Homo sapiens: one gene and its partners. The protein of the gene in region 2 interacts with the protein of the main gene of each other region in a biochemical or structural test. Each region holds a gene or a part of one and is shown on either strand. Other genes may lie near its edges.

Region 1 (3,754 bases), on a different chromosome or scaffold from region 2:
GACAGATCCTTAGAACAGCATGTGCCATAATAGAATATTTATACAGCTTTTCCATGATATAATTTATATGCAATGGGGTTTCAAATATTCCTAAAACTCACACAAGAGAGCATTATCAAATTTCTAAATGAATATTGCAGTTGGATTTTATTGTGAAGAGTTTGGTTAGAGAAAAATAGCACACCTTATCGGTGTTATTTTACAAAATGTGTACTTGACTAAAATAAAAATGAACTAATACTTATTTGATCAAAAATTATAGCTACTAAAATCTCTTCTCTCCAAATAGTTACAGAATCTAAATGGGTCATTTCTGAGCATTTCTACACTTCCTATGTAGCTTAATTTGGAGGTTATTTCTTTCAGAAGGTAAAAACAGAATATATATATGTATATATATGTATGTGTATATATATGTATATGTATATATGTATGTATATGTATGTATATATGTATATGTATATATGTATATACATATACATACATATATATATATGATTTTTTCTTTATACCTGCAAATAGATTAGTAATAGTATGTAATATCAGTCATAGCTAAAATGAAAATCAGGCTGCCCTAGTGTAGAGAATAACAGCTAACTTCAATTCTTCTTAATAAAAAAGTTAATTTGCTATCAGGGTGCCTGAGATTGTATCTTCTGAAAGTGTCAATAATCCCTTCTAATAAGTATGGAATGAATGAATGTGGAAATACATTTAGGTAGGATTTCTGTTAAGTCAATCACCCACCCAGGCATTATGTTTTCTCTATGGAGATTTTTCTCATGTTAAGAGTTTGCAAATCTCCACATTGGTGTGGGTTGTCTATTTTCTTTTGATGCCTGATAGTCTGTACACTTTGGACAGAAAGAAATATGTAGAGAGAAGGGGAGGCAGAGCTTGTAACTCATAGGCATGTGATTGAGAGTGACCCAAAGATATTTAATTGCACCGAAAGGCATGCATCATGAGATACTTAAGTATCACCACATATGCTAGCAAACTAAGCAGATTCCTGATATATCTGATGGGTTTTATTTTAAAATCAATGACAAAAATGACATTGATATAAATCACATTAAATGTACATAGACAAATAAGCTAAAATGGCATGCAAAACAATATAACCTCAAAGTTAGGATTTTAGGCTTCAAAGTTAAAGATATCTGAGTTTGAATCCAAGCTCTCCTACATGCTAGCAATATGAACTTGGGCAAGTTAAGCTTGTTTTTCTGGTATGTTAATTGAGAACAACTACAGCTCTATCTCATAGGGGTTGAGATTTCGGTGAAGTAATACATATAAACTTTTAGCACAGTGTCTGGAACATAATAAGTTATCAGTAAATGTTAACTGCTGTAAAAAGACAATGGTAACTTCAGCTTTAGGTGTATCTGAAAAACTGCAAGGCTCAAGCTGCACCAAAGTTCTTCTCCTCTTTCATTTCAGGGCTTCTAAATTTTCAGCTTTGGAGAGCCATTCCTTTGTCTCTTGCAAGATTTTAATCAACAAGGAAGACTAACTGAACTGTAAATTTTCTTGAGAAATGTGTCACTTTATATATGAATTATCTTAAAGCTGGAAGAGAACTTAGGAATGTTAAAATTTCCACATTTAATAGATGAAAAAATGAAGAACTAGACCAAAAGGGATAAAAAGGCATTCATTTAGGATTGAACAGACATGCATATTAATTTCAGTAAAGTTTACACTTAGTAGCTATGTGGCTGTGGGCATATTACTTCAGAGCTCAAAGCCTCAGTTTATTCACCTGTCAAATAAGGGTCATGATGTCTAGTGTCACATTGATTAAAATAAGTTTATATACTTAAAGCTTTTAATATAGCATGTTAGACACACATGAGGATATCATCAAAAGCCCTTCATCACAATTGTCCCTTTTATTATCAAATCTTGTTCAGCTAATGTCCTGACTCTTGAACTTGCATTATTTCTCCATACATCATAGGTTTCCTTGTTTCAGGCTCCAAAACTTATTCAACAAATGTTTACTAAAGAACTGTATGTCAGGTTCTGAGTTGTTAGGCAGCAGTATCGATAACTGAGAAATGTGGCTGGAGACAGGCGCCTGTGAAGACAAGAAGAGGCCCCAAGGGAAAAGGCCTTGAAAAGCAGAGAGAAATGAAGGGAAGAGAGAAAACACCAAAACCAAGTTCAGATTCTCTGGGTATACAGTAGAAGCCATAGATAAAAAATGAAATAAGAATTATTTCCACTTGAGGTTTTCTAGAATATGTGACCTAGAGCTGACACTGTGTACTTACTGGCCTGGGGGGTGGTCTCCCTTCTCAGCATCTTGGCTTTTTTTCCCCACTGCCTGCTAAATGTATGTTCCTAATGGCTGGGTACACCGGTTGAGTTCATCTGGTTTTGTATTTTATTAAGTGAAACCAATTTATTATTTTAAGTAAAGAAACTGCATGATATAGGTGTTTGATGGTATTTATAACTTGGCCAGGTGAATGCAAATAAAGTCCTAAATGACTTTAATGCCAAAGGAGAAAATTGATTAGTCCTCAATTTTTGTACTGTAGGAAAAAAACCAGGTACGTTCAGGAACAGGAAAGAGAGAACTCCTTTCTAAAACATAATTTTAAGAATACAGAGGGTTTATCTTTCAGGGTGGTAAAATTGTGAAAATGAGGCCAAGAAAAGCATTGGGAAATGGGGTCTAAGATATGGCTACATTGTGTGTTTCAGTCAGAGCTGTTGGATTGTGAGACTTCCTTAATTTACGCATACAGTATAATCTGGGGTCCTGGAAATAGTCCAAAGAGGTGTAAATAGCCCCACGAGGCCTTTGGGACCTCACGTATGCCATAACTAACTCGTTTTGAGTCCACACTAATTGTGGAAGCTGGGTCTGTTTAAGGAGGGACCTCTGGCAAGGCCACGTGGAAACATAAAACACAGCTGTGCAGGGCCCATCAGGAGGGTGTTTGAAAGCAGCCAGCTGGTTGACAGCGAGGTGCCAACTGGCTTCAAGTTTCCTTGGAGGTCCACCAAGGCTTCATGGTTTCCTGGTTTTGTGGAAATCCATACCCCATCCTAGACTTTCCCTAGAGTGATTTTGAAACTTTTCTGAGAGAAGAGGAACAAAAGGGTATCCTCCTTCAGGGTGTCTCTCATGCTGTGGCTGAAAGGAGTCACTATGAATGCCATGCCTCAAATGGATCCTCTGGGATCTCTGAGAGCCTATCCCTCCCCACCTGAAGCCCATCTGCAGCCTGTAAAAATAAAGCAGAGCCCACTATTTCTGAGCCAAAAATGCTCCTGGCAAAAAAAGAAAAGAAAAGAAAAAAGGAAGAAGAAAAAGATGGCACCGTTATGAAGTGGGTCAACTTAGTTTTTCACCTTCCTCCACTTCTGCTAACTGTGACTCTCATCCCTATTCCAGGTTTTTACCCCTACCCCTCAACAGGAAATAATGCAGGGGAAAAGACCTCAAGGGCAGATATCTGAAGTGGATCCGATTGCCCAGGGCCCTATCAAACTTAAAAAATCCTCTATAATCTGACACCTCATTTTGTAACCTTGCCTAAAATTTACATATATGTGTTTGTGTATATATATATGTGTGTGTGTGTTGTATGCTTATATATGTATGTACACATGCACACACATGTGTGAGATTTTCCTTCTTAAATGGAGACCCCTCGAGGGTGGCAGGAGCTATTTCAATCTTATACCCATTGAGGTCAGTTGCACAGAGGCACTTTGAGTTTGGATTGAGAAA
Region 2 (3,754 bases):
ACTTCTCAGTGGGGAGACTGGTGAACTCACTCCAGCAGAGAAGCCCATTGGATTTCACGAGGACTCTCTACCCCGGAGCCGGCATCCTCTGTGCGGAGGAGGGAGAGAGCTGCTCTCCCTGCTGAGGCGACAGCTTCCCTGTTAAGCACTTCCTCATTTCATTTCATTGGAACCTACTTCAGCATGTGTGCTGAAAAGGACTAAGACACACACAGATGCACACACACACGCATGCACAAAGACACACAGGCACGTATGCACACTACACAGACACACGCATGCACAACAGTGGTATACACAGACTCATGCAGACACACAAACACGCACACTCACCCCTCAAAACACTTAAAAAAATTAACAGTAATTCCTCAATATCACCAAAGATTGTCAGTGTTCGTATTTCCTCAACTGTCTTAACATTTCTTTCCTTAGTTTACTTGCATTATGATCCAAATAAGGCTGTATATTGTGACTAGATGGTATTTCTCTTTTAAAAAACTTTTTTAAATTAATTTTTTTTTAAGAGACAGGGTCTCACTCTGCTGTTCAGGCTGGAGTATAGTGGTGTGATCATAGCTCACTGCAGCCTTGAACTTGTGGGCTCAAGCAATCCTTGTCTTAGGCTCCCAGGAAGCTGAGACTACGGGTGTGTGCTACCATGCCTGGCTAATTTTTTAAAACCATGTTTTGTACAATCAGGGTCTCGCTATGTTGCCCAGGCTGGTCTGGAACTCCTAGCCTCAAGTGATCCTCCCACCTTGGCCTCCCAAAGTGCCAGGATTATAGGCACGAGCCACTGCACCCAGCCCAGCATTTTTCTTAAATTTCTTTTTTCCCCTTGCAGTTTTCTGTTGTAGGAAAACAAGCTGTTTGTCTTGTAGTGCTTCTCCCAGTCTGGAGTCTGTGAATTATATGCATAGGATGTTCTTTCTCCTGTAAACAGATTGTCATTGTCACTACCTTACAGGGCTGTCAGTGCTGTTACTGTGGCTCTTCCTAGAGCAAACGTGCACTTGCTTCTGCAGGGGAGTGAGCTCACACAGCCCTGGACCCCATGCCAAGGGCTGGCTCCTCCAGCCTGGCTCCTCCTCTCACCTGGAGGCCTCTGAGAGGAGCACCTGACATCAGACCAGCTTAACAAAGTCATGATCCCACATGGTTGCATTCACTTCATTGTTTTCCACTATGCCTTTTCTATAACCATCAACTGTGGTTAGTTAAAAAAAAAAGTTTACTATAGTTTATCCACAACTGTAAAGGATACCAACCTAAGAATTAAATAAAAGGAACTGGGCAAAACCAAGAGATAGATAACAAATCACCTCAAAAGACAGTGTCAAGTCACCGTTCATAAACTCAGGAAGTTGCACTGGAAGAGGTGCTACAATTAAGGCAGGGCGCCCAGGTCATGTAGTCCAAACCAGGACCCTTTGAGAGCAGAAGGGCACAGTTATGCTGGGCCAGCAGGCAGAAACGGGCTGTGCCAGGCTCCTCAGGACACACGGTCGCATGGCTTTAAGGGGTCTTGTTTGTAATACAGCCAGCAGGGCTGGCCGCTCACCACTCAAAATGTCAGCTAACCTCTGAAACAAGGTTTCCAGCCTAGAATGCCCTTCTGAGTGTATTATATATTCATCATATTTTAAAAATAATTTAAGGAAAATAGGTAGAAGGTAACAGTTGACATGATTAAATTTGTTTTAATTGAATTTAAGACTTAAATAAATACAGGTAGGAGCAAGTCTTGGCTCCTCTAAGGGCTAGAAATGCATATTCCCAGAAAATTCATAATCAGCTAATCATCTCGAAGAAAAAACTTGGATTTTTCCAGGCCAGGCCAGCTGGTCTGCCTTGTAGCCGTGTGCCCTTGGACAAGCTGCAGAGAGTCTCATTTTCCTCATCTATAACACATTACCACACTGGTGTACTTACAGAACATGATGACAACATGATTAGCCTGTGCTAGTGAGCCAGGGAAAGAAAGCACACAAGGCTTGCTCTGCCAACTCTCAAGTCCTCCATAAACACCCAATGTCTCAGCAGCACCCATCTGAGGATAGCGGGGGCTCCTACCGCTCCACTGTTGGTGACTAAGTCAGGCGATGACGGAAGCTTCCATCTATCACTCCCATGCACTTTATTCCACCCACATCACTTCCAGAACATCAGCCTCAAAGTTCCAAAGTGAATGTGACTGGTACTTTTGTGGTAATCTCCTTGTGACTTAAAAGTAGGTTGCCATAGTTACCAATCATCTTTGCTGGCACAGAGAGCACAATGTTATTTTAAAAATTAGGTTTGTTTCTTCATAAATTTATTTTCATAAGGGATGCATGATTATTCATACACTGTATACAAATCTAGAAAACACAAAATGTATAGATCCTTCTTAAACCTGCTGTTTGGACAGACTCAGCCCGTTTGATGTGTTTTCTTTCTTTAGCAGGTAAAAGTACATACATGCATGCATACTGTTCAGAAACTTTTTTGTTTTGAGATGGAGTCTCATTCTGACCCCGGCTGGAGTGCAGTGGTGTGATCTCAGCTTACTGCAACCTCTGCCTCCCTGGTTCAAGCGATTCTCCTGCCTCAGCCTCCTGAGTAGCTGGGACTACAGGTGCACACCACCATGCCTGGCTAATTTTTCTTTTTTTCTTTTTTTTGTATTTTTAGTAGAGACAGGGTTTCACCATGTTGGCCAGGCTGGTCTCGAACTCCTGACCTCAAGTGATCCACCCGCCTTGGCCTTCCAAAGTGCTAGGATTACAGGCGTAAGCCATTACGCCCGGCCACATCTAGGCACTTTAGAAGTCAATCCTCAGGCCTATAAAAATGGTAAGGCAAGACTCAGAAATAATTTCTCTCAGAGATTAAAGGTTTCTATTGCTATGGTAGGACATAGAAACACAGCAGTCAGCCATAACATTTATTTCGAATCTCATTTCCTAAACATATGGTTAATATAACAATATTGCGGTTCTTTTCTTTTTCCTTTTTTTTTTTTTTTTTTTTTTTTTGAGAAGGAGTATCCCTCTGTCACCTAGGCTGGAGTGCAGTGGTGTGTTCTCGGCTCACTGCAACCTCCACCTCCTGGGTTCAAGCGGTTCTCCTGCCTCAGCCTCCTGAGTAACTGGGATTACAGGCACACGCTGCCACGCCCAGCTAATTTTTGTATTTTTTGTAGAGACAGGGTTTCACCATGTTGGCCAGGATGGGCTTGATCTCCTGACCTCGTGATCCACCCGCCTTGGCCTTCCAAAGTGCTGGGATTACAGGCATGAGCCACTGCATCTGGCCAACAATGTCATGGTTCTGTCTCAGACGGCATACTAGTACCCATATTTGTGCTAGGATTTGCCTTCAGTGGAATTGGAAAAAACCACATCCTTTTTGCAAACGCCATCAATGAGTCAGCCTGCTGAAGGAGCACCTCAAAGAGCATATCCACCTGCCCTGGGCCACTGAGGACCCCTAAGGAGCACGGCAGTCCTTCTCCAGACCGACACAGCACCCACACCCAGGGCCAGACCACGTGCAGCACAGCCCACATCCCCCAACCAGCAGATGTCCCCAAGGGAGCTGGGCCTGGTACCTTCTGGGTCCTCCTCCCCCCGCTCCTCCCCATCCTTCAGGCTCTGTTCACTGAGGTCGGCCACGATGCCACTGCTGTGTTTCTTCCCTTCTTCATCGCCGGATTCTTCAGACTCGACCCGCCTGTCAACTGAACCCACACATGTCAATGAGAATTCACATC
Region 3 (3,754 bases), on a different chromosome or scaffold from region 2:
ATTGATTTATCCTCCTCTTCTGGAGAGGAAGGTGTACTGACTATTTCAGGTGTAAGGCTAAAAAAGAGGAATTAAACACAAATCTGAATGTGTAAAATATATGACAAACTGAAGACAGCGATAAACACTTAGAACATGGCTTCATTTGAGTCTCCTATACTTCTTTCAACCTCTTTCATTATATTAAAGTTATTTTGGATCCTACGATTCTTATTTGGTTTATCTAATCTCTCATAAAAGCCTAACTTTGCATCCTTTCCTCATTTAACTGTTTGCAACTTCATCACTGTTTAGCAAACCAGTTTTATTTAGAAATACGAGCAACTCTGAGTTAGGGTCAAAGAATCATTAAGAGCACAGACAGACATGGTTTCACATCCCAGCCATGTCAACTGTGTAAAGTTGAGTAAGTACATCAATCATTTTGAATCCCAGTTCTATCATTTATAAAGTGAGGGAATAATACTATGTTATGAAGGTATATTATACCAGTAAGTCCTTAATATTGTGCCTAGAACACAGTGTTTCAACGGGTGCCAGCTATTGTGAACATATTATCAGCACTAAATTCATTTAATTTGGACTTGGTTAATATCATTTAAACACATCTGATTCAAGCACTGCTTTGCAAAAGAGAAATAACTTCTAAGTACCATTGAGGAATAAAATGTTATTACATGACAATAAATTCATAATGAAGCTTGATAGAATATCTTACCATTAGAACTTGGTTACTAGTGACCCTGGCATTGCTGTCTTAGCCCCTTCTAACACTAGCAGGATGATCAGCCAGTATATGCCAAAAGTGAATGTCAAAAATAGAGGAGTGCTCTTTTGGTTAAATAATTCAAATAAATTTAGCTCAATTTTCTCAGTCATCTTAAGGAATTTTTGATAGTCTTGAAGTTTTTTCTCTTGAACTCTGAGATTTAGATGGTTTCCTATAGATTATTTTCTTCTGGAAGAAAGACACGCATGTATCTACATATTACTAGTATAAAAGTTCTATGAGCATTTGGGCTTTAGTCCAATCTAAATCATCATGACTCTTACTTCCATTCAAAAAGCTTCTCTCTCAGAGTACACAGTAAAGTGATAAAATTACCTGGTACTAACTGCTGACACTTTCTCTTTCTTTAGCTATTTCCTGATGCTAATTTTAGAACTGATTTGAGGATACATAAAAATATACATAAGGTTAAAATTATGACTTACAATAAATGATCAGATATTAAGGAATTTCTTTTTAATTTGGAATTGAGGGCCTAAGTAATTGCACTGCCAATCTGGTTTACTGTGCCAAGAGTCCAGCGTTCCTTACACAAGGGAGGGGGATGAAAATCCAAGAGAAAAGACATGAGACACTGAATGCAAAGGTCCTCTTTACCTCCGCCTCACTGATAACCAGGTATACACATTATCATCGTCACTACCACCATTACCACCTCTGCCACATGCATTATTTCATTTACATCAGCCTGGGAAGCAGTGTTAACAGCATGGTTCTCAGAGCTGGATTACCTGGTTTCAATCCCAACTCTGCACTTATTCTGTAACACCAGGCAAGTCACTTACCCTTATTGTGCCTGAGAGCCAACAGCAGCAGTGCTGTAAAGATTAAATTAATTAGGACACATAAGCACTTCAAATGGTGCTTTTATATAGTTGGCACTACTAAAAGTTGGCTATTAGCATTATAATTATCCTAACAACAACTCTGGAAAAAAAAAGTTACCCCCAATATTCCTATTGGTAAGTGAGAGAGCTGAGGTTTATATTGGGCTCTTTCTACACACCAAGTTGCCTCCCTATTATTTTTGTAATCTACTGCTTTCTGTTTTAAGGCAGATTCTGACCAGGTATGCTTTTTCTCAAAACAGAAAATGGAGGATGGGGAAGCTAGGTAAGAAAATGTGTGTATGTCACAATGAAACTATTGTATATGGAATAATAACATTTGAGAACTGGAATGGATGGACTTCCAACATAATTTAGGCCAACCATATCATTTTATCTAAAAGAAACCGAGTCACAGAGAGACTAAAAGACATGCTCAGAACCACACAGACAGATAGCTGGACAAGCTGGTAGTGTGGTATTAAAAAACCAGCCTAAAAAGTTATGTTAATTAATTTATTTTATTTATTTATTTTTCTGGGATGCAGTGTTGCTCTGTTGCCCAGGCTGGAGTGCAGTGGTGTGATCTCAGCTCACTGCAACCTCTGCCTCCTGAGTTCAAGTGATTCTCCTGCCTCAGCCTCCCAAGTAGCTGGGATTACAGGTGCCTGTCACCACATGCGGCTAATTTTTTTTTTTTTTTTTTTTGGATTTTTAGTAGAGATGGGGTTTCGCCATGTTGGCCAGGCTGGTCTTGAATTCCTAATCTCAAGTCATCTGCCTGCCTCGGCCTCCCAAAGTGCTGGGATTACAGGTGTGAGCCACTGTGCCCATGCAAGTTATGTTAATTCTAATATTTAGCTGTCAAAATCACATCTGTTTGCTATTTAAAACTTTCTCCCTATCATTCAATTGATCAAGCCATAGTAAAACTTTTACATTAAAAAGAAAATTTTTTAAGAAAGAAAAGAGAAATTAATTGGTACAACAAGGTTTGTAGGCAAATGGCAGGAAAGGATGTAGGTTGTAATTCCCTCAGAGACAGGAGAAACACCCTCTTCTTCAAACTTATGGAGGGAGAGGAGGATGGAAATGACCAGCTTGAAGGCTGGAGGGAAACATAATAAGAATGTGAATTCCCGTCAGGTTCTATTTTCTCAATGAAGCTGGAAGCAAAGAAATTTGCTGAGAGTGAGGGGCAGGGGTCGAGGAGGGGGTTTAGGAAAGCAGCTCAGGCCTGTGAGACTGGCGAGGCACAGCACTGCCTGCTCAGCACAGCTGAGGCTGTCCCCAGAAGTACTGAGTCACACAGGGCTGACAACCCAGTCAGGCTTCAGTCAGCTCACAGCTGTTGAGGAGCTGAGATAAAGTAAGGCTTTGAAGTTTTAGAGAAGACAGCCCTCAGGGTCTAGGGCCCCAGATGAAGTCAAATCTCAGGTAAGTGAGAGTGGCAAGCACAATCTTTTGAAGAGAACAGTAGGACAAACAGGCAGTGACTGTTCTTCTGCAGAAACATCAGCTTCAAATCATGATTTTTATCATTATACACGCCAGCTCAAAAGCCTACCAAGAATGCCTACTCGCTAGTCCTCCCTATTAAAAATGACTCTGTGATTTTGTTAGGCACTACTCTAGCTCACCAAGCTAATTTTTACTCAATAATACAGTTTGTTCTACCATTGCAAATTTGCAGTTTTATATCTATGGTTTGCTTTCTTCTATTATGTGAGGGTACTATGTAACATTTTTACAGCATTTTGGTTTGCACCATAATTGTATATCACATGAAAAGATTTAGTTCCCATCTATGTAACATTCTGTGTGTAATTAGACTGCCATCTATGGAAGACAATAGATTATTTTCATTTCTGTTTTACTTGCTTCTTTTTATTTCCTGCTCAGTAAATAATTGTCTTGAACTCTTGAGAACCAAGCCATTTTAGAAAGTTACTTTCTAAATGAAGGTTAACTATTAAACTTTTAATATATTTCTTAATGTAAATCTTTAATATAAAATGTTCTATGTAATTCTTCACTTTAGAATATATGATATTTGCTTATTCAACATTTGGGTTTGTGAACACATAGGCTCACATCATCATGCTATCTCCTTCTACTAGAAGCTGAAAATTCTAAA

The links.
Region 1: the proteins of PPP1R7 (region 2) and PPP1R3A form a complex in vitro, tested with the Homo sapiens proteins (one study listed by BioGRID).
Region 3: the proteins of PPP1R7 (region 2) and UBXN2B form a complex in vitro, tested with the Homo sapiens proteins (2 studies listed by BioGRID).

What each region holds. Positions count from the first base shown.
Region 1 is NC_000007.14:113,912,267-113,916,020, reverse strand, and holds part of PPP1R3A (protein phosphatase 1 regulatory subunit 3A), read left to right. Parts: intron 1-3,754. UniProt on the Homo sapiens protein: Seems to act as a glycogen-targeting subunit for PP1. PP1 is essential for cell division, and participates in the regulation of glycogen metabolism, muscle contractility and protein synthesis.
Region 2 is NC_000002.12:241,153,443-241,157,196, reverse strand, and holds part of PPP1R7 (protein phosphatase 1 regulatory subunit 7), read right to left. Parts: intron 3,722-3,754; coding exon 3,593-3,721; intron 2,180-3,592; exon of another isoform or gene 1,933-2,179; intron 1-1,932. UniProt on the Homo sapiens protein: Regulatory subunit of protein phosphatase 1.
Region 3 is NC_000008.11:58,442,210-58,445,963, reverse strand, and holds part of UBXN2B (UBX domain-containing protein 2B), read right to left. Parts: intron 58-3,754; coding exon 1-57. UniProt on the Homo sapiens protein: Adapter protein required for Golgi and endoplasmic reticulum biogenesis. Involved in Golgi and endoplasmic reticulum maintenance during interphase and in their reassembly at the end of mitosis.